Homo sapiens: one gene and its partners. The protein of the gene in region 2 interacts with the protein of the main gene of each other region in a biochemical or structural test. Each region holds a gene or a part of one and is shown on either strand. Other genes may lie near its edges.

Region 1 (7,031 bases), on a different chromosome or scaffold from region 2:
CATATCAATAACCAATATTTATACACCAGTATAAATCAGATATAAAGGAAAAATTAAGAACTATCATATGATTTAATATATGTTTAAAAATAATGTAAACCATTAATAATATAACTTTCAATTGGCATGATGGCATTAAATATATTTTTCTTTCGTTGCTTTTAAGTTCTTTAGGTACATTTTTTGCATGATTTGTTGTTATATAGCAATGCGCCAAGAGCACCTAGTATTTACTCTTCTACCTCTATGTTGGTCTAAATTATCCATCCCTTTCATGGAAACGGAAGAAAAATAAATATGCCTAGTGGAATTAAGACTCTTTATTTTTATATCTGAAATTGGTAACTTTGTTATTTACTTTGTCAATTTAGTTCAACTAAAGGAAGTTTTAAAAGAGAATTACTGAACATCAATGCATTTTACTAAAAATTCTGAAAGAGCAAAGTTGCCTATTACCTTTGTATACAGTTGTTTGGTTTTAAATCACTTATATGTTTTGCTTTTTTTAAAGAATTTATGATTGCTTAATGCTATTGTAATAATCCACTACTAGTTAGGATATTTGAAAACCTTAATCACCTTTTAAAAAAATATTTTTGTATCAGGACAGTTATTATGTTCCATATTCATGTCACTCATAATCTTTAAGACTCTAGTGTTACTCAGCATTAGGAAACAGTCACACTTGGGAGATGACATTTAGGCATGTTAATACAGAAATATATGCGACTTACAGCAAACCTCAATTTACAGTCATTTTTGGAGGATATGTCCCCTTGTCAAATAAGTGCTTCACTTGAATTCACATAATAGTGAAACCCTGAACGATATCAATAAGGCAAACTGGCAGCCTGAGAAAGTTTGCTACTTTTATTTCTCAAAAAAAAGAGCATGTTTTAAAACAATATTGGCAGCATTGACAGCAAAGTCAAAGGAACGTTTAAAAACTGTGTGCATTTGCTAAGAATTTTCAAATTCAACCTTCAAATTTGAATTTTGGTTGTTTAAAATAACTCATTAAAATTTTGAGCTTTCTTGTGTGATAGATTATATTTATAATCAAATATTGAAACTCAAATTTAATCAAAACTGTGTTTGATGTCTTTATAAGAAAATGAAATGTCACTGAACATAGTACTTAAGGTGTAAGTACTTACGTGTTACCACATGGCTTAATATTTATAAAATAATATTGCATTTTAAAAAGCATGGCAAGGGTAAAATGAGTGAGACAGAGCCCACCCACTCCACCTCATGTGCTCTTTACATTCTCAAGGTTTTAGTTTTGTGAGTGCATATATGTGTGTTTTTTAGTCATATCAATAAATCGTAGTAAAAGATTATAGGAAGTGAGTTTCCAAAGCACATTTAAGTCCACATTTCCTTGAGCAGGCTTTCCTTTTGCATATATTCCTAAAGGGGATAAACAAAGTTTTTGTAGTTACAGTGAAAGCTAAAAGCATGGCATCAGAAAGTGTATGGAGATAGGGAGGTCTTATCATGGGATGTGGTTGCTGTGAGCAGGGCTGCCTTCCCACACAAAGAACAGATTGTGGTTTAACTCTTTCCATGGCCTAGTTTAATGTGCTCGCATAGTAACTGAATTGTTCAAATCTCTGCTGGAAACTACTGATCGGTTTAATGATTTCCTCTATGGCATTTGGGTATGCCTCATGCTGTGATGTAATCATCAGCATTCTGTATTGTTATAAAATTTTGATTCATACTTATTCTGGTGAAGGAACACTTACAGCAATGTTAGAACACTTGATAACTACATTATTGATTGGATGGGACATGTACTCCTTCCATATCTGAAGTGCAAACAGCTAACATGTTGCAGTCTGTAGCATTAAAACTTCGAATTTCTTCTTCAAAATGTATTCATATCTATATTGGATTTTTGACACCTTCTTTGTTAAAGAGTCATTAGTTGTACTTTCATCATATTTACCTAATGGAATTAATTAGTCAGTCTGCTGTTAAATAGAATTTATTCCACGTAGTTCAGGGTGATTAACATGAGTATGTAAATTCTAACTTGGGATACAATCAGAGAGTTATTTTGTCGTTGGGCTGACAGTATAGTCAATATGATCAGAAAAGTGGTGGTGGTGGAAGTTCTCATTTGCTTCAAATCTTGGCTTATTGCGTACATGCGGTGTGCATGTACAGGACGTTAAGCTCTTTCTCTTTGAACAGTAATAGGCCTAAGCTTATAAGACAGGTTTTACCTAAATCAGGAAGTAACGAAACTGACTGCACTGGGAAGTAACTTGAAATATCTGTAGGTAAAGATTATCCACCATTCCTCACTGATCCCCTCCCTTAAAAAAAGGGCTTGGATGAAACAGGCAGGAAAAATGCAGGAGCCTAAAGGTAAACTACTTAATTCAAAAGATTGGTACTCTATAATCTATGTATCTGCAAATTCACATGCACATGCATATATGCACCCACAGTTCTAACTGATAATTCATCTACATGGCAAATGAATTGTATAGATTCCACAAAAGCAGTAACTGACCAGCAGTGTCACCCCACCACAGCATGCAGAGACACAAAGAATGTAAAGTTGGTGCCAAGTTGCCATTTTTCATTGTTCACCTCAGATTGATTTTTAAGAGGTTTAGAATAATTGCTATACTCATGTGATCGGTGAACAAATTAACGGACTCTGTGGGGCTGCATATTCTATAGGGAAGCTGATGGAAGAACATTCATGTAATTTTTGTTTTCCAGTTTGAAAACTTCTATTTAAAAATGCAAGAGTGTGTGTGAGAAAGCAGGAGAGTGCAAGTGTGTGTGTGTGTGTGTTGGGAGCTGGCGTTGGTAGTGTGGGGAGAGAATGCACTGCTCAAAGTATGGAAACCTTCTGTTCAGGACACTGATACGACGAGCTGTGTCCTTTGCCCACTTTCCCTCACTGTATACCGGTTTCTCTAGTTACCACTTTTGGAATGGTGCTGTTTCAGTGTTGGAATGTTGGACGTTTGATAAGAAAATGGATCAAGTTTAATGGCGCATGCTCTTTGTGCCACCAGCAGCCTCTTGCTGAGAGCATGCTCCAAAAGCGGGAACTGTGTGGCATTACACTGAGCATCTATATGCTTTGTGTTTCTGTGCCACAGAGAAGAGAAATGAACTGTGGCATCGCTCCTGCCTTCTGAACAGCTCTACTCCGATTAAAAAAAAAAAATCTCACTGTGTTCTTTGTAAAATGGTACTGCATAGTGTTAGTTGGTCAATCAAATATTGAAATACTATATTAGGTGCCAAGCACCTTAGTTAGTTGCCTATATTTTAAAGAATGTAGAATGCATGGCATTGGGGTGGAAACAAGGGGGATGGGGCCAGAGTGTAATACAAAATATAAACCTTATTTCCTTTATAGGAGGGAGAATTGACCTGTGAATTTTGGTGGAAAGGGGACAGCTGGGCATACTTTACTTTCTTCTTGTCCTGTTATTTTGATAATTTTAAATAAGAAAGGAATGTTATTTTCATGTATAACTTTTTGTACTGAATTGGAAACGGGTTGTGGTCTTCTTTTCTTATTTTTTGAGCTTTTAAAATTAAACTGACTATGCACATCTTTTCCTCACCCCTCTGTCTTCCACAGGATGAATTTCACCCATTCATCGAGGCACTTCTTCCACATGTCCGTGCAATTGCCTATACTTGGTTCAACCTGCAGGCTCGAAAACGCAAGTACTTTAAAAAGCATGAGAAGCGAATGTCAAAGGATGAAGAAAGAGCAGTCAAAGATGAGCTTCTCAGTGAAAAGCCTGAAATCAAACAGAAGTGGGCATCCAGGCTCCTTGCCAAACTGCGCAAAGATATTCGCCAGGAGTATCGAGAGGACTTTGTGCTCACCGTGACTGGCAAGAAGCACCCGTGCTGTGTCTTATCCAATCCCGACCAGAAGGGTAAGATTAGGAGAATCGACTGCCTGCGACAGGCAGACAAAGTCTGGCGTCTGGATCTAGTCATGGTGATCCTGTTCAAAGGCATCCCCTTGGAAAGTACCGATGGAGAGCGGCTCATGAAATCCCCACATTGCACAAACCCAGCACTTTGTGTCCAGCCACATCATATCACAGTATCAGTTAAGGAGCTTGATTTGTTTTTGGCATACTACGTGCAGGAGCAAGGTAGGAGCAGATTGTTCTTTTTTCTAGCACGGCAAACACCGCCTACAAATCTCCGTAGACAGAGTATCTGGCTTGAGTTAGATGGTCCTCAAGGCCCCTAGATATCCTCCACCCTCTCTGGGTATAGTAGGGTGTCCGCTTTCACTCACATGTCCGCTGCCATGTGCGAGCCATGTAAATAGACACAGAGCTTTCGTACCTGGATAGGCTTGGATATTTAAGAAAGACCACAAAGAGGTGCGTTTTCAAGTATCTTTAAAATAATACTGTTTTTCAAAGACATAGGGTAGTCTAACAAATATAGTTCATTACACTATACTTTCTGTCGTAGGCTACATTTTTGCATCTAATCTAGTAATCTTTTCCTGATTTGAAAATATAACTTTATTTATGAATAGCCAAACCATCCTAGATAATTTTTGTATTAACCTTATTAATTAATGAGGTAGAGGGACTTTGTTTATGAACTTAGTGGTATCGCACTGAAAATAGAACTAATGTTTACTATTACAAAATGCTTAAGATAGATAATATCAAAAGTATATCTTACGTAGACCTAGATTTACTTAATTTTAATATTTCTATCATCACTTTTGATTGTGCAATATTCACTGTCGATTAAATGGAATTGAGTTATTATTTAAATTATTTATAGTATGTTCCCAGAGTTACTTGGGAACACTTAATAATGTTAGTTTACTTGTATGTAAATTCATAAAACTTACCGAGGAGGAAAGTCGCAGCGCTGCTTACAGAACAAAAAACAGAAAGTGGACTGGTTACACTGGTTTAAGATAAATCTTAAAAAGAATACAGAAACTGCATACCATACCTATTATTTAAAATACCTGAGAAGGAGAATGGTATACATTTTACCTAAATAATTAAAAAAGATGATGTTATTACTGAATATTTGAGTTAATGAAATGTTTATTATTTTTATTTTTCTTAATATATTTTCCTTAAGTAGGTAAGAATTTCTTTTCTTCAAATAAATGCATCAAGATATAGATGTCCTTGCATTACCAACAATCCATAGTAAAACAATCATTTTACAAAGCCGCATACCAAAAGTAGACTGAAGTTTGAGCTGTCACAGATGGTAGGTCATTTCCAAACTTGGCCTGGTGGGAGGAAAAATGGCCTGCAGATAGCCAGGTGACAGACTGTTACCTGAGGTTTGTTATATAAATGTGGGACTTAATAAACTGCTATGAGCTTTATTATTCAAAAAAATCAAAATTACTTTTTTGACTCTGAATTCTAGGCCCTCACTATGTGCTTTTTGTCTTGATTTTCTTGTAGCTTTGGAGATAGGCTTAAGTGTCATTTTAGAATTTTTAGTCTGATTTTAAATAATGGTGTTGGACATTGCACTTTTAGAAATATTACCTTTTCCTGAAAAAATGAAACATTGCATTTAATATTTCCATGCATTTAAGAATTACAGTCCAAATAATGATGGTTTGGGGAAAATAATATTTTTGTCCCATGTGTCCTAAAATAAAACTCAGTAACACATGACACTTATTTGATTGACAGATGTCTAGGAGGTGACACTTTAAGGTGGGCTGTATATATGTGTTGGATTGACTATAAATGTGTTGTAACTGTGTTGTGAAAGTCAAGGATGGAAGTAAAGTTTCAAAAAGTGGGTCATGTAACTTTTTAGTGCAGGGAGGGAAGATTTGCAACCACTTCACTACTGCTCACATTTTAAGTTGCTTGAAGGCTAGGTTTTGAGGTGTGCCTGCCTGCATGCACATTTACTCCTGGGGAAGGCAGCCAGCTCTCTTAGTTTTGATGAACTGACAATAAAGATTTGTAGAGATAGATTGAAAAAAGAAAAAAAACGCATAAATGCCTTCCATGTTGCACCACTGGTCATGATAACTATAAAGTTTTAAGCAACTCTTAAGAGACCATGGTTTTAGATAAAACATTGATTTTGTTGTTGGTTCAACAATCTCTATTGTAAGAACTTTTCATTATTTTATCTTGTGTATATAACTTGTATCCTCTGCTACCTGCCAGTGCATCATCTTCTCTTAACATCTGTTGGTTCTTCCTTTGAAAAACTCACGTCAGGATGCTTTTGTGTTTTCCCCTTTTCAAAATTTATATATTCTTCTTTGTCAAGTGTAGGTTAATTATGTCATTTTATAGTGCAATTGATTAAAGAAGGCAGATTTTAAAAGATAATTCTCCGGTCAGTTAGAGGGCTGCATATCGCGAGTGATGACTTTTTATTTGTCTTCTAAGTACATGATAACTCACCTAAGTCTGTTTTATAAATCAGGAAAAGAAGTATAAAGGAAAACACGAAAGAAAAATCAGAAAAGAGAAATGTAATGTTTGCAGCAGAAAGAGCAACAAAATTACGTTTCCCCCTTTTTCTCTCTCCCCACTTCTAAATGACTGGGAGAAAAACATGAGAAAGAACAGAGAGAATGCCAAAGATGGTTGCCACTGGCACCAGGATTGGCATCAGACCCTCTTTGTTTAGCTCAGGATGCCTGTGATTTGTTAGTTGGCATCCGCATTGCAGTGTGGAGTGATGTTACAATATATTGACAATTTCCAGATCTAGAAATGTCAATAGTCCTCTTGGTTATTTATACAAGATCACACACTGCATCTCTTCTGGAAGACGAAATAAAGACCAACATGTACTAAAGTTTCATTGTTGACCAACTTCCTATGCTTTTCTTTTTTCCCTCTTTCTCTTTTGGTTCAACCCACACTTTTTTTCCTTCTTCATGCCCAGCAGCCTCATCTTTCTGAAATGTGGGAAGAGTTACCAGAGCTTTGACACAAGCTATAGTGCTACATCTGCATCTGATATGGTTTGGGAAAAAATTTATGCTTTTTGAAATC
Region 2 (7,619 bases):
TGGCCCCCGGGACAGCCCTGCAGCCACCGGTGACTCGGGTTCGTCTGCGGATCTTTCCCGGCCTCCACTCCATTCAGGGACAGCCCTGCAATGGGGCTCCCTCCCAAAAAAACGCATGGCCTTCCTGTCCCCCAAAACCAGCTTAACGGCAGCCATTCCCTCCCTCCTCCGGGGGCTGAAAAACCAGACCACCTTCCACTAAAAGAGGCCGTTTACACAGACCCCTTGGTGGTCCTGGGGGCTGGGGAGGCCCGGAAGAGGAGCCTGGAAAGCCACAAGTATCCAAAACCCTTTGGAAACCGAATCCAAGGTGCCTGGGCCTGGGACTGCCCTCCCAGTCCCCAAATCGTTACTGTAAAGGGGGCTTTGGAATGGGACGTCAGCAGGCTCAAGGGGTGGGGGAGGGTGCCAGGAGATCCGCCCTGCCCTCCCCCACCACACAGGGTAGACGGTGGCGCGCCATCAGCACAACTGCATCCACCCCTGGGGATGCCCGACTGGGCACCCCCAGGCCTGTTTCTTACTGCAATCCCGGGATAACAATACTGCCTTCCCAGGACTCCAAACCCATCCCTCCCCTCCCTGCTGGCTTAGGGACCGCTGCCCCAATACCCGGGGGCCTATGGAAGCGCCTCTTGGGTGCCACTCAGGGAGGTGGCCATCCCGTCCACTTAACCCAGAAACTCAGAAAACCCAAATGGAGCTCTCAGGCCACGCCATCTGGCAAGAAAAGAATGACCTGGGTAGACAGGTGGGAGTCGCTTTCCCAACAGGCTCCCACTTCAGCCCCGTCTGTTCAGATCGCCCAACTTACCCCCAAAAAGCCAGGGCACTCCTGGACCCCTGCCCACCGCCCGGAGAGGCACCTCCCTTTCTGTTCCCAACGCTGCCTCGCCATCTTCACAGACCCCCAATGTCCCTCCCCGCGGAGATACACGGACCCCATTGCCCTCAAAAAGAGGTAACACCCTGGGACCCCTCCGCCGAGGATGTGTGGCTCCTCGCAGAAAACGCAGACCCCACCCAAGTCCTGTCTTGACGCCCTCGGTTCCCGTCTGTGTCTCAAGGTGGGCAGAGCCTCCAGGCCCCTGGGACCAGGACAGGGACTGAGCGAGGGGTGAAAAGAGTGCAGAACAGAGAGGGGGCGGCCGGCAGGCTACACACCACCGCCCCCACCCGCCCTCCTGCTCTCCACCCTCAGGCGTCCCAGCGCGGCTCCCCATACCCCAAAGATGGACCCTCAATTCTTCCGCAAGGCATTCGCGGCCCCTGCTCATCTCAGCCCCACCACTCTGGACGGCCCACTTCCCTTCGGCTGCTCCACGTGTCCCTACAATCCGAGCCCACGGACCAAGCCTCCTTGGAGTGTCCAGCTGCCCAAAGCGGCCACCGCTATGGCTATGAAATAGAGGCAGCATCGCACTCTTGATAGAAATGAGAAAATTGAGACCCAGATCGGGTAGAGGTCTTCTGTTTGGTGGCAAGGCCAGAATGCCAAGCCCAAGGGCAGCCGCACAGCTTTCCCCCAGCCCCCCACCCTCCCCGGAAGGGACAAGCACCTCTAATGCCCAAACCAGGGCCGGCCATCAAGGCCCACCGTCCCCTGTTGCCCAGTCCAAACTCCCAGTCCAGAAAGTGGAACCCTAGGAGGGGACGGAGTGAAAAAATACAGCCAGGCCCACCAGGCTCCCGGTTCCCCTCGCCGCCCCGGGGACTGCGCTAGGAGGGGCGTTGGTGTAGCCGAAGCGCTCCAACTACGCGCACCTTCCCGAATCGCCCGCCAGGTAGGGGTGAACAAACACGCCAGGGAAATACAGCAGTGTGGACCCGAGCCCCTCGAGGGTCCTCCAATACTATGAAGTTCCCCCGCCCAGACTCAGGCCCCAACCCGCGCTCCTAGCCTCGCCCTCCCCCTCGTTAAAATACAGAGAACGCAGAGAAAACGTGCCGGGCTCCCCCCATCCTGGCCCCACGCCAGGTGCTCTGCCGACCTCTGGGGAGAATCCGCGCGGCCACCCCGGCGGCGGCGACGCGGTTCCTCCTCCATTTTCACAGATAAGGAAACTGAGGCTGGGGGAGGGGGAGAACCCAGAACCCCAGAGCCGGATGCTCCAACCACGGTGCCCACCGCCCAGACCAGAACGCAAAAGAAAAAAAAAAAAACGGAACAAGGCCCAGAAAGGGAGAGAGGTGGTCTGCCCAGGAGTCTCAATCCCGCCCGCAGACCTCGCTGGGCCCCCGGAGCCCCCGCCACTGCCGCCGGGGCGGCCATCCGCTCGCCGCCCGACCGCGTGGCCGCCACGCCCCCCGCGCGCGCCCCACCCACCGAGGCCCCGCCCTGCCGGCCGGCGCGGCGGCGGCCCGGGCGCGCCCCCCTCCCCGCCCCCCACGCGCCACGCAGTTTCGGGGTCCTGGCGGGGGAGGGGTCTCAGGCGGCCGCCCCCGCAAGGGCCGGGATCGCGGCTGCACTCACCTGTGTGCGTCCGCAGGTGCGACTTTAGGTGCGAGGACTTGTAGTAGGCTTTGGCGCAGTCCGGGAAGGGACAGCGGTGGCTCTTGGCGGCGGCGGAGGGCGCGGCGCCGGGGGCGCGGCCCGAGGACGGGGACGAGGCGGCTGAGGAGGAGGAGGCGGGCGAGGCGCCCCCCGGGGCGGCTCCGGGTCCGCCGCGCAGGTCGGCCAGGATGCTGGCGGCCAGCAGGTGGGGCGCCGCGGCGGCGCCGGGGCCCGGGCCAGAAGCGGCGGGGGGCGGCGGGGGTGGCCCCGGGGTCCCGGGTGAGGCGGCCTCGCGGCGCGCCGCGCGCACATCCAGGCCGGCGGCGGGGCCCGCGCCCTCGGGGCCGGGCCGCCCGCGGTGCACCACGGCGCCCGAAGAGATGGCCATGAGCACGTCGGCGGCGAAGTAATCCACGCACGCCACGGCCGCCGACATGCCGAGCAAGGGCGCGCGGCGCGGCGGGCGGAGCGGAGGCGGCGGGAGCGGCGTCCGTCCGGCCGGCGGCGGCTGCTCGAGTGCGGGAGGCGGAGGAGGAGGAGGAGGAGGCCCGGCGCGCGCCGCCGCCGACGCCCGCGCTCGGCCTGCCCCGCCCCGCCTGACGCGTCCTGACGCACCGGAGCCCGCGGGGGCGGCCACAGCCCGCCCCGCCCGGAGGACGCCCCCTCGGGGCGCCGCAGCCACGCCCCCCGCCCGGCGCGCCCTCCACCACTCTCCGAGCCGCGCGCGGCCGCCGGGGGCGGGGCTCGGGCCGGAGGAACCCGCCCCCCGGCGCGCCCACTCCGGCCTCCGCCAGCGCCTAGCGTCTTAGGCCCGGAGCGCGCCTTCTCCGCGCTAGGGTGCAAGGCCGGGAGCCCCGCCCCCTCCCGGCGCGCCCCACTCCAGCGCGCGCCCCCGTACCCTTTCCCGGAGCACCACCCCCTCAAGCCGGGGCGGGAGGCCGAGGACCCCGCCCCCTCTCCGGCACGCCCCTCCTTCCGAGAGCGCGCCCCGCCCCATCCCGGCACGCCCCTCCCTCCCAGAGCGCGCCCCGCCTCCTCGCTGGCGCGCCCACCCCACGCCGGGGCGCGCGGCCGGCGGGAGCCCGCCCCCTCCCCGGATGCTTCCCTCCTGGCCCCGGGCGCGCCCCCGTTCGCGATGGAGGAGGGCTCCGATCCCCACGTGGCCGGGGTTGGAGGGGTGCGGAAGCGGCCGGCCCCGCCCCCAGGCCACGTGCGCGACCCTTCCCCCCTCTTCTCCCGGCCTGGGGCCCTGCTTTGACCCCGCACTCAGGCATCTGCTCGTCCTCTTCTCTGGGGTTCCCCCTCGCCGCTCACAGAGCCCCTCGGAGCCTCCCGGCCGAGACACCCGGTATCCCGCGCCCGCGGCGGGGCCCGGGAGGGTGGGGCAAGGCTGCGTTCGTTCCTCTTTTTGCACCCAGTTCCGGAGCTACTAGAGCGCGCCCCACTGGGGGTGGGGAGGGCCGGTTGGGTCCCAGAGGGTCGGGATAGGGGGACGGGAAGAGGGGGCCGAACGCAAAGGGCTGGGCTGGGCTGGGGGCGCCTGAGCGGGTCAGAGGTTCCCCGCCCTGCTGGGACACCGGGGTCCGGGGCTTCTCTTTCCATTCCCAGGCATCGATTCTTGGGGTTCGGACGGGAAAACTGAGGCCAGGTATTCGGGCCTCCCGGCCGCGAGGACGTCCAGGCCAACTTGTTAAATATTAGGGGGGACACCAGGGACGCGGATGGCCCAGTTCGCAGGCCCAAGGCGGCGGGGGCACAGAAACTGGGCGGCCCCCCTCGGTCGCGACCGCGCTCCCGCCCCTTCCCAGCTCCGGCGGGGCGGCGGGGACTGCGCAGTGGCCGGAGCTGCCTCCAGGGGGCGGAGCTGCTTTGGCCTGCGGCGACCTCCTGCTCTGGGTTGGGCATGGACAGAGGCCCTGACCCGATTCGGGGCTTCTCTAGCCCCATCCCCCGCCCACCTGCAACCCCAGCTGACGCCCTGAGGCTGACCACTGTTCCCTGGGTCGCCCGCACTGCGCCTGGGCTCAACCATGCTTGGTTAAGCCAGCTGAGCCCTCCCTGGGCCCCAGTAAGCCCACTCTACGTGGCTGGACAGAGCGGAGCCGAGAGAGAGGAGGTTCAGCGAAGTGTGGGAGGGTACAGGGTGCCCTGCACACACTTGCCCCTCTCCTAGGCCTGGGCTCCAGAGCCCTCTCTGCACCCCTACCATTCGGTGGGCGCTGGGGGTCGGCGTTCCTGCTCCTGCTGGGCCTCTGTTGTCTTTGAACTTCTAGGACGATGGGCCACTTGGGCAGGTCCCCCAGGTCCCCACCATCCCAGCAGCCCCCAGGGTCCTGGAACCCCGCATTGGCTTGTGGACAGGTGTGTCTTGAGGCCTCAGGGTCCACACCCAACCATGCGTCTTCCACTGATGTTTCCTGGGCTTAGAGCAGAACCAACCAGCCCTGCCCTCAAGGGGCTTACAGTTGTAACTGGGAGGCTAACGATGGGGGGCAGGGGTGAGCAGCCTCCAGGGGTGGGCCACATGGCCCCAGGCAGGACCTTCACTGTGAGACTCCATTGTCTGCCCACTCCAGCCATTATCAGGGTTTCAAGTGAGTGGCCTCATCTGCAGGTCATGCCAGCCACTCCACAGGCAGGAGACCCCAGGTGAGGGCACACAGCCCACACCCCACCCATGAGGCTTCTATTCACACCCCTAAGCCCCAGGAACACTCAGGCAACCCATGACCCCTGCGGTGAACACAGACAAACCTCCAGCAGCGCCCGGCACAGGGCTCTGTCCTCTCTTCCTTACTCTCTATGACCCTGTAAATTCTCCACCGGGTGCGGTGGCTCACGCCTGGAATGCCAGCACTTTGAGAGACCAGGGTAGGAGGATCACTTGAAGCTATCAGTTCAAGACCAGCCGGGGCAACGTAATGAAACCCCCAACTCTCCACATTAAAAAATGAGCTGCAGGCCGGGTGCAGTGGCTCACGCCTGTAATCCCAGCACTTTGGGAGGCCAAGGCTGGCAGATCACCTGAGGTCAGGAGTTCGAGACTAGCCTGGCCAATGTGGTGAAATCCCGTCTCTACTAAAAATACAAGAAAAAATTAGCCGGGCCAGGTGGTGGGCACCTGTAATCCCAGCTACTCAGAAGGCTGAGGCAGGAGAATCGCTTGAATCTGGGAGGTGGAGGTTGCAGTGAGTTGAGATCGAACATTGTACTTCAACCTGGGCGACAAGAGCAAAAACTCCATCTCAAAAAAAAAAATTAGCTGGAGGCCAGTCATGGTGGCTCACGCCTGTAATCCCAGCACTTTGGGAGGCCGAGGCAGGCGGATGACCTGAGGTCGAGAGTTCGAGACCAGCCTGACCAATATGAAGAAACCCCGTCTCTACTAAAAATACAAAAAAAATTAGCCGGGCCTGGTGGCGCATGCCTGTAATCCCAGCTACTCAGGAGGCTGGGGTAGGAGAATCGCTTGAACCCAGGAGGCGGAGGTTGCAGTGAGCCGAGATCGTGCCACTGCACTCCAGCCTGGGTGACAAGAGAGAAACTGTCTCAAAAAAAAAAAAAATTAGCGGGCGCAGTGGCCTCACACCTGTAGTCCCAGCTACTCAGGAGGCTAAGGTGGAAGGGTCGCTTGAGCCCAGGAGGTCAAGGCTGCAGTGAGCTGTGACTGCACCACTGCACTCCAGCCTGGGTGACAGAGTGGGACCCTGTCTCAAAAAAAAAAAAAAAAAAAGGAGTTGTCATTCCCATTCTACAGATGAAAAAATCAAGACTGGGAGAGGACCGAGAACAGCCGGCTCCTGCTCACAGCTAAGAGGCAGCAGACACTTTGGGGCATCCATAACTCAGCCCCTTCTTTCTTCAAACCTGTTCCTCACCTATAAATGGGGGCTCACCTCTACCCTTCCCTGACAGCGCCCAAGAGGATCAGGGGGACAGCTCCTCCCAGCCCCAAAGATGGACCTCCCAAGCCTGAGGGCTATGGAGCAAAGCTCAGCAGGGGACAGACAGCACCCAGGTGTTGCTGGGAGTGGGTCTCTAGCAGGGCAGGAAGAACACAACGGGACTCTCAGAGGGGCCACGGAGCCAGGAACTGGGGCCTTGCCTCATAGAGGGCAAAGAACACAGTCTCCCAGAGGACAGATGAGGGCAGAGGTCACATAACCGGGGGTGCACCCACAACATGGATACCCCAAGGTAGGTGAGGGCCAAAAACAAGGCTGCAGGGCCGGGTGCAGTGACTCACGCCTGTAACCCCAACACTTTAGGGGGCTGAGATGGGAGGACTGCTTGAGCCCAGGAGTTCAAGACCAGCCTGGGCAATATAGTGAGACCCCTGTCTGCATAAAAAACAAATTCAAAACTTACCCAGGCATGGTAGTGCACGCCTGTGGTCCCAGCTCTTCGGGAGGCCGAGGCGGGAGGATTGCTTGCGGCCCCGAGGTCAAGGCTGCAGAGAGCTGTGATACACCCCAGCCTGGGCAACAGAGCGAGATCCTGTCTCTAAAAATAGTGATAGATTGTCTGGGTGTGGTGGCTGATGCCTGTAATCTCAGCACTTTGGGAGGCCAAGGCAGATGTATCACCTGAGGTCAGGAGTTCAAGAACAGCCTGGTCGACATGATGAAACCCTGTCTCTACGAACAGTACAAAAATTAGCCAGGTGTGGTGGGGGGCCGCCTGTAATCCCAGCTACTCGGGAGGCTGAGGCAGGAGAATTGCTTGAACTGGAGAGGTGGAGGTTACAGTGAGCCAAGATTGTACTACTGCACTCCAGCCTGAGTGACAGTGAGACTCCCTCTCAAATAAATAAAAACAATAGTAAATAACAAAGATGCAGCAGAAGAGGGGGTAATATGTAAGGACGTGTGTGTGTGTGTGTGTGTGTGTGTGTGTGTGTGCGTGCGCGCATGCACTGGAACTGCCATATCTTCTTGATTTAAGACAGTCGGGTCTTTGCTTTGTGATAGTTTTAATAGTACTTTTCTGTAGTACTCAAACATTTTTTTTTACCATGTGTATTTACTACATGCCTCTGAATGTCAACAGGCATCTAAGCAATGCAATGATGGGCCATTTGTCCTTTCATTTTTAGGCTTTTCTGTATGAAAATTCATCTTCTAAA
Region 3 (7,031 bases), on a different chromosome or scaffold from region 2:
ACCATGCCCAGCTAAGTTTTGTATTTTTAGTAGAGATGCGGTTTCACCATGTTGGCCAGGATGGTCTCGATCTCTTGACCTTGTGATCTGCCCACCTCAGCCTCCCAAAGTGCTGGGATTACAGGCATGAGCCACCGTGCCTGGCCTCAGCTAACTTTTAAAAATTAATTTTTTGTAGAGATAAGGTCTCACTATATTGTCCAGGCTGCTCTCGAACTCCTGGCCTGAAGCAATCCTCCTGTCTCAGCCTCCCACAGTGCTGAGATTATAGACATGAGCCACCAGCCCAGCCTGACTACCACAAATACCAATGATGAATTTGAAGGAATCTTTGTGAATAGTGCATTTGACCTGTATTTTCAAGGTTTTCTTGTTGAACTTTGCACTTATAAGTGCCTCCAGAGATGAAAGCCACTACATGACTAGAATCCCATATATGTTTGCCCTTGTCTACTGAACACAATTTGGAATGACTCATATAGCTTAGAAAAAAATGGCAGACTAGAGGGAAATTGAAAATTCAAAAATTCTGGATGTTTAGAAAACCAGTGACAAGCCACAGGCCTTCTTGACATGTTTCTCCAATTCTATTTACTCTCATTGGGTTTTTTTATACCAATCAAAAGGATGAAATGCCCCATTGAAACAAAACATTATGCTAGATTTCTGCTTCTCATTCTACAAAAGTCTTTATTTTTCTGCATTGAACTTTGAAGTAACATTTCATTTCCTCCAGAAAAAGAGTAGGATTACTTCATCCGTAGTCTTTTTTTAAAAATCTGGTACTTCTAGAAAATACATTGAAATTAAAGTTTTAATGCATTGAAAGAAAGCCAATCAGTCATTAATCCATACAGTAATTTTGTAACAGTTGTGCATAAATAATTGGCAAAAGAGATTTTAAAAAGGAGTTTATTTTTAAAGTAATGTACAGAACCAAATTTGATTTCAAAAATAAAAGCCAACATTAATGTTTTCTAGCTTTTAACAGAAAGCAGTTTACTAGCATTTTGGAATTTCATCTGGTCAATTAAATATACAAAACAAATTAACCAAAACATACATTATGTATGTAGAGAAAATATTAAAGTATATAATAAGGAAATGTGCTCAATACGAACTCTTTAAAAATTGAAAACACAAAGTAATTTTGAGATTCATGACAGCCTTAGGGTTCATATTACTTGACTGTGATAAATTTAGAAGATTATACATAGTTTGGCTGGTTGTTCCTGCATGCTGACGGTATTTCTTCCGTCTTTAACCCTTGCAAAGAAGATTTAAATTTTGCTATTTTTGAACTTGTTTACCAACTTGGTCATTCTTGATACTTGTTATTGCCCAAATTTTACTTGTAATTCCTTTTAGAAGCATAAATAGTGGATTTCAATCATGTCAATATTTCTGCAGTATTTAGAATGGCATGAATTAGAAAACATGAATTTTTCAAAGAAATCATAACTTTTTCTTGAGTCCAGCCATTTGCTATCATCAATAAGATTAGTTAGGATACTGGATTTCATCAGTGATTCCATTATCTGAAAAAAAAAAAAAAATCTGCCACCTTTAAAGTTTTGATTTTTGTTTTAATTATCTGTTCTGCTTCTGTTTTATGACATGTAGTTCAGGCATTGGACTAAATTTAAATCAGTGGAATGGTTGGCAGCCTATAAATTGGTCTACACAAAAAGGTTTAAATGAGTTGGGAGATTTGTTTACATTTTGCTAGCTTTTTATTTCTTTCATTTTTTTTATTTGAAATCTCCTCCTTAGTGGAATTACATGATGATAACCTTAGGTTAGGTTATCTTACAGTGAATGTTCACCCAAAATCTCAGTGCATCCTACATTAGAACTTTGGTATGGTGTGACTGGTTACTGATTCAGCAAGCAACAAATATAACTAAAGTCACTTAATTACTTCATTTTTAATTCAAATCACATGGATGTTGATCTAGAAAGGATCTGATTCAAATTGTCAAATTAGTATGAAATCACATACCACTCTATGTTGTACTTATATCTGACTATGCAAATGTGTTTACCAATTTTCAATTTTTCTTTCTTGGGGTGAAAATTCTAAGCTTTGCTATGTTTAAGCATCTATTCATGAAGCTACAGATAAAGCTGAGACCTGCACAAGTAGTTTAAATATCTTTTCAGACCATTTGGGTGTTTCAGACCCTTGGAGGTCTTGGACATAGAGGGGAACAAAGCAGACAAGGACTCTGTCCTTATACAGTCTGAGTCACACTCAAAGGTCATGTTGTAGAATTGCATTAAGGAAATCTGTGATCAGAAATAACAGGGACATATTTAGATACACGCAAAACTAGCTAAATTTCTGGAAAGATCTATACCTATAAAGTGCTTGGCACAGTACATGGTACTCCATAACAGTTACATGTTAATATCATTATGATTTTTATTACTTTTCCAGTTCATCCAAATAATTCTCTGGTCATGGGCAGAACACAGCACATGTAAACATGTATAAGTAAAATGGAATTTGGTTCTTTTAACATCAGTGCAGACCAGTTTTGTGCTACAACCTTAAGAGAGCCCAAATTTGTCCCCTGATGCGGAGACTAGGAGTCATTTCTTTTATTTTTATATCCAAATTTTCATTGTTTTAATTGGCACCCTATCAAACTGATAGATGCCTCCAGTTGGGTATGTCAGCGTGGTTGCCGAGAACATTACAAATCCAGTAATTACAAGGAACTGTTTCTCCATTATTTTCTTCCCAAAGCATTTTCTATGCTGGAAATGCTGTGAAAACTTTAGACACAATAATAAAAGTACTATTTTTAAAAACAAGCTTTTATTGTATTAACATGAAAGCAATATATGTTCATCATAGAAAAGACAGGTAAGCAAAACAAAGGCAATGAAAATCACCCAAATTCAATACAGAGAGAGAACTACCATTATAGTTTATGCATATTGCCTTCCAGTTCTTTCTCTGTGCATAGAAATAGCCTTTTCAATGGTGTCATAGTATAACATCCTATTTTGTAATTGCCTTTTTCAATTAACATTATATTATAAATGTTTTGCCACATCATTACTCTTTTACAGTATTGCTTACATTGGTTATACCATACTTATTTAACCAGTCCCCAATTGTAGGGCATTTAAGATTTTTTTACTTTTCTTTTTTCTTTTTTTCTATTCTAAAGAATTCATTGAATGAACAACTAAGTTGCCATTGTTGAGGGTATTCTTATGTTAAAACAGCCAAATTATTTAAAATATGGAGAAAGTGATTTGGTGTCAAAGCAAGGTAACCAACAAGATGAAACGATTGCATGTGAAGTCTTCATAAGCATACATGGTTTCCTTTTTGGGAGTCACAGAGGTCACAGACACAAGCAGCAACTTTTAGGAAACACTGGAAAAGTTGAACCCTGTATTATTATTGAAGACCAATAACCCAAAAATGGACTGTGATTAATTAGAATAAATTGAAATCAAATACAGACCGACTTATCAGGGGACTATTCTGTCACCTCTTTGTTTCTGTGACAAATGCAAAGCAATTCACAACATCTTTTTCATTCACAGGTGGATTTCTCTTTTTGTTTGTTTTTAATTCTTTAAATGTTATCTTTTAGGTTGCACAAATCATTGTTCCATGAATTAAAGTGTACTTACCAGTTGATCCTTCTTGCCAGGAATGCCATCTCCAACCACACTGAAGAAGTCGGAGAAGTCTGGTTTCAGCAGCCCCTCCCCTTCACAGACCTCCTCCCTGGGAACGGCGTTCACACAGCATCACCGACCTGTCATTACAGGACCCAGAGGTGAGCTGCTCCACAGGCACCCTTGGTTGTGCTTATATCATGGCCTTTGGACCCAAGTAGCAAAATGAGAAACAATGAGGACTCCCCCTGAACACTCGTGAGGCAGTGAGTGTTCCAATTTCTTACCCTTGGGGGCAGCCTTGGAATTTTAGAGACCAAAGAGATTTGGCATCACATTTTTTGTCCTTTCCTAAGGCAAAAAGAGACCAAATCTGTTTTTTGTTGGCCAGTGAGATTTTTGCAGAAAGATGGGAAGTAACTTGAATTGAACCAAAATCAAATCTGTTCTACAAGTTGTGTGTGTGTGTGTGTGAGAGAGAGAGACAGAATGTGTGTGTGTGTGCGCACATGCGCGTGCACACATGCATGCATTGGGTGAGTATATTTCCATGTGGTCAATTACCTGTTTTCAAGTAGTAGCTTTTTCTCATCCCTGCTGACTCTCTTTCCATAAAACCTGATTTCAATATGTGGCATTTTGTGTTGAGGTTGTTTGCATCAGGGTGTTGACGAGCAGTCTTCATTCACTCCTTTTGAAGTGGTAGATAGTTTGTCTGGTTTTCATTGCAATGTTTTCATTATTTTTGTCTCATATGCTTTTAAGTTTATTATTAAAATGTGTCCACGAGAAATATGATTTGTATTTCGCATTAAAGACAAGCCTTAAGCCTCAAGAGAATGTCAGCAAATCACTTAACTTGATCTTATTGCAAGATAAAAATATTTATTATTTTGTTTATGAAACTCCCACAGTAGAAGTATGAATAATTGTAGCCATGTTTGCTTTCCTTTATCAGATTTTCTTTTAGGTAGGTCTGTGACCTACCAGCTGGTTTCATAAAACATCCTAGAAAATTATGATCTCTTGTCTGCTTTGACATATACCTGGGGAAACTGATGTTTCTTGCATTAATCTCAATGTTAGCCCCACCAATCTGAATCCCTTTATGAATGTGCTCTGTGTGCATCTCAGGGAAATGTGGCAGGTAAGAGGGCTGTCCGGTGCACACATGGGAGTCATATTGAAGAAAGTAAGCATTTTGACCACTGTGGGAATGAAACTTACTTGTTTCATCTTTAAACATCTTGTGATCATTGGTAGAACTTTCTCAAGATCCCTTCTTTCATTTGTGTATTATGTGTGGTATAATCAGAGAGGCTTACTATCGATATATAATTTGAAAACCTGCATCAGAATTAGATTATAAGGTCCCAGAATGAGGCTTATTAAATAGTATTAAGATATTATCCTCATAGTTAACACTCATTGAGCATATAAACTGTAGTGGGGGATCAGAGATATGAAGCCCTTTTAGTCAGAATATTTATGGCCTGAAGGAGATGAGGCATGTGTTGTTTTTCATCTGTTTGGGGTCAAGTTAACATATTCTAAATGCTAACTGAATGGTAAAAGTTCCTGCAGGAGCTCAGTATTGGGGGGACCGTGGAGGTTCATTCACTCTTTAAACAAGGATTTACTGAGTGCCTCTATAGACACTGGGACCAGTGGTTCCTGTCCTCATAGAGCATGTTATCTACTGCAGAAGAGAGGCACACAAGGAAATAAGCAAGTAAAAGATGATGGGCCGGGCACAGTGGCTCACGCCTGTAATCCTAGCACTTTCTGAGGCCAAGGCGGGCAGATCACTTGAGCTCAGGAATTCAAGATCAGCCTGGCCAACATGGTGAAACCCCATCTCTACTAAAAATACAAAAAAAAATTAGCCAGGTGTGGTGGCACATGCCTGTAAATCCCAGCTACCTGTGAGGCTGAGGCAGGAGAATCACTTGAACCCAGGAGGCAGAGGCTGCAGTGAGCCAAGATGGTGCCACTGCACTCCAGCCTGGGCAACAGAGCAAGACTCCATCTCAAAAAAAAAAGAGACTTCAAAGTATAAATAACATTGAAGTCAAATCTTAAAAGATGCTTAGATAAATGGAGGGCCATCCTAAGCAAAGGAAAGATTTGTGGTGTAGTAAGTTAGTAAGAACTGAGAAGAACAGTATGCCAGCAATCAGGAGAGCTGGGTAGGCTCCCTCTTTTCCTTCCCACTCACCTTCTGGGTTTTTTAATGTCCTCATCAATATAGTGGGTACAATACTAATAATGACCATTTCCTCCCAATCTTGTATTCTTATACAGAAACAACAATAAAACAGTATTTGTGGAGATTCCATGAAGAGCATAATGCAATCTGTATATATTATCATTAGTCAGTAAATATTAAGAGTGTCTAATGTGTGTCTTGCCTTAAAACTGTAGTTCTAGAAATTACTGTCATGGGCACTTCCCTATGGGTACAGGTTGAGAGCTTGTTCATGCTAGATGACTAAGCACATTTTCTAAAATGACCCACGCTGGGTTGAACCAGAGTGGACCTCCTTAGCTCACAGCATAACAAGTTGCAATCTATTCATATTCATTCATAAAACTGTGTTTGAGGAAAAGAGAAAGATGCCTAGTGTAAGAATTATGGAATACCAAAGATTCTTTGTTTTCACCAGAATTCAAGATGGCTCCCAGCATCCTCGGCTCTCCTTTCTGGAAAGTCTACTCAGGTACCCGTTCTTACCGTGTCCCACCCCGCTTAGTGGTCTGGTGAAGGGAATTGGAGTAGTTGAGATGAAACTTCAGTTGCCTCTTTGTGGTAAGAATCATAAGAATTGAGATAGGCTAACGTAAGACATTTTTCTGGCTAAGACATTTTTAAAAGGTTGGAATTCAGCCTCATTATTTATTTGCTGTGGGTACTGTAATTTCCTTCATTTCTCTCTGAACTAGTTGGAAAGCTAATGCTTGGAATGATACCACATTTGGGAGTAAGACGTGGTGTTTTAGGAAGATGAGGCCAAAATTGAGGAGGAAGAGTATAGCTGCAAGAGTCAGTGTGGAATCGATGTCACATGTGCGCATAAAGGAGATTTCAACCTCTGACACTCCTTGTATTGGGCAAAGTTGCCACAACCCAAAATAGTAAATTATTAGATAATCCAGAGAATCAAACTTTAAAAGGATCTTGAAGAAAAGAAAAGAATGTCCTTTATCAGGTCCCCAGGGCATGGGGCAGGGATCACGGAGGCCATTGACTGCTCTCTGGTTAGCACTAGGTTGTGAGGCTTCTGCTGCCTTCCCTAGCATTTATCACGGGAATGCTTCAACTAGACTAGCACCAGTTAGTAAGCAATAACTGTCCAACACACATCCACGCTCAGAATGGAGATGAG

Evidence for each region. The genes of interacting proteins can lie anywhere in the genome.
Region 1: the proteins of KLF16 (region 2) and NFIB form a complex in vitro, tested with the Homo sapiens proteins (one study listed by BioGRID).
Region 3: the proteins of KLF16 (region 2) and NFIA form a complex in vitro, tested with the Homo sapiens proteins (one study listed by BioGRID).

The regions. Positions count from the first base shown.
Region 1 is NC_000009.12:14,304,112-14,311,142, reverse strand, and holds part of NFIB (nuclear factor 1 B-type), read left to right. Parts: intron 1-3,107; exon of another isoform or gene 3,108-3,220; coding exon of another isoform or gene 3,221-3,235; intron 3,236-3,622; coding exon 3,623-4,154; intron 4,155-4,297; exon of another isoform or gene 4,298-4,391; intron 4,392-5,124; coding exon of another isoform or gene 5,125-5,165; exon of another isoform or gene 5,166-5,390; intron 5,391-7,031.
Region 2 is NC_000019.10:1,860,568-1,868,186, forward strand, and holds the start of KLF16 (Krueppel-like factor 16), read right to left. Parts: upstream 3,013-7,619; 5' UTR 2,931-3,012; coding exon 2,474-2,930; intron 1-2,473. UniProt on the Homo sapiens protein: Transcription factor that binds GC and GT boxes and displaces Sp1 and Sp3 from these sequences. Modulates dopaminergic transmission in the brain.
Region 3 is NC_000001.11:61,379,560-61,386,590, forward strand, and holds part of NFIA (nuclear factor 1 A-type), read left to right. Parts: intron 1-3,677; coding exon 3,678-3,806; intron 3,807-7,031.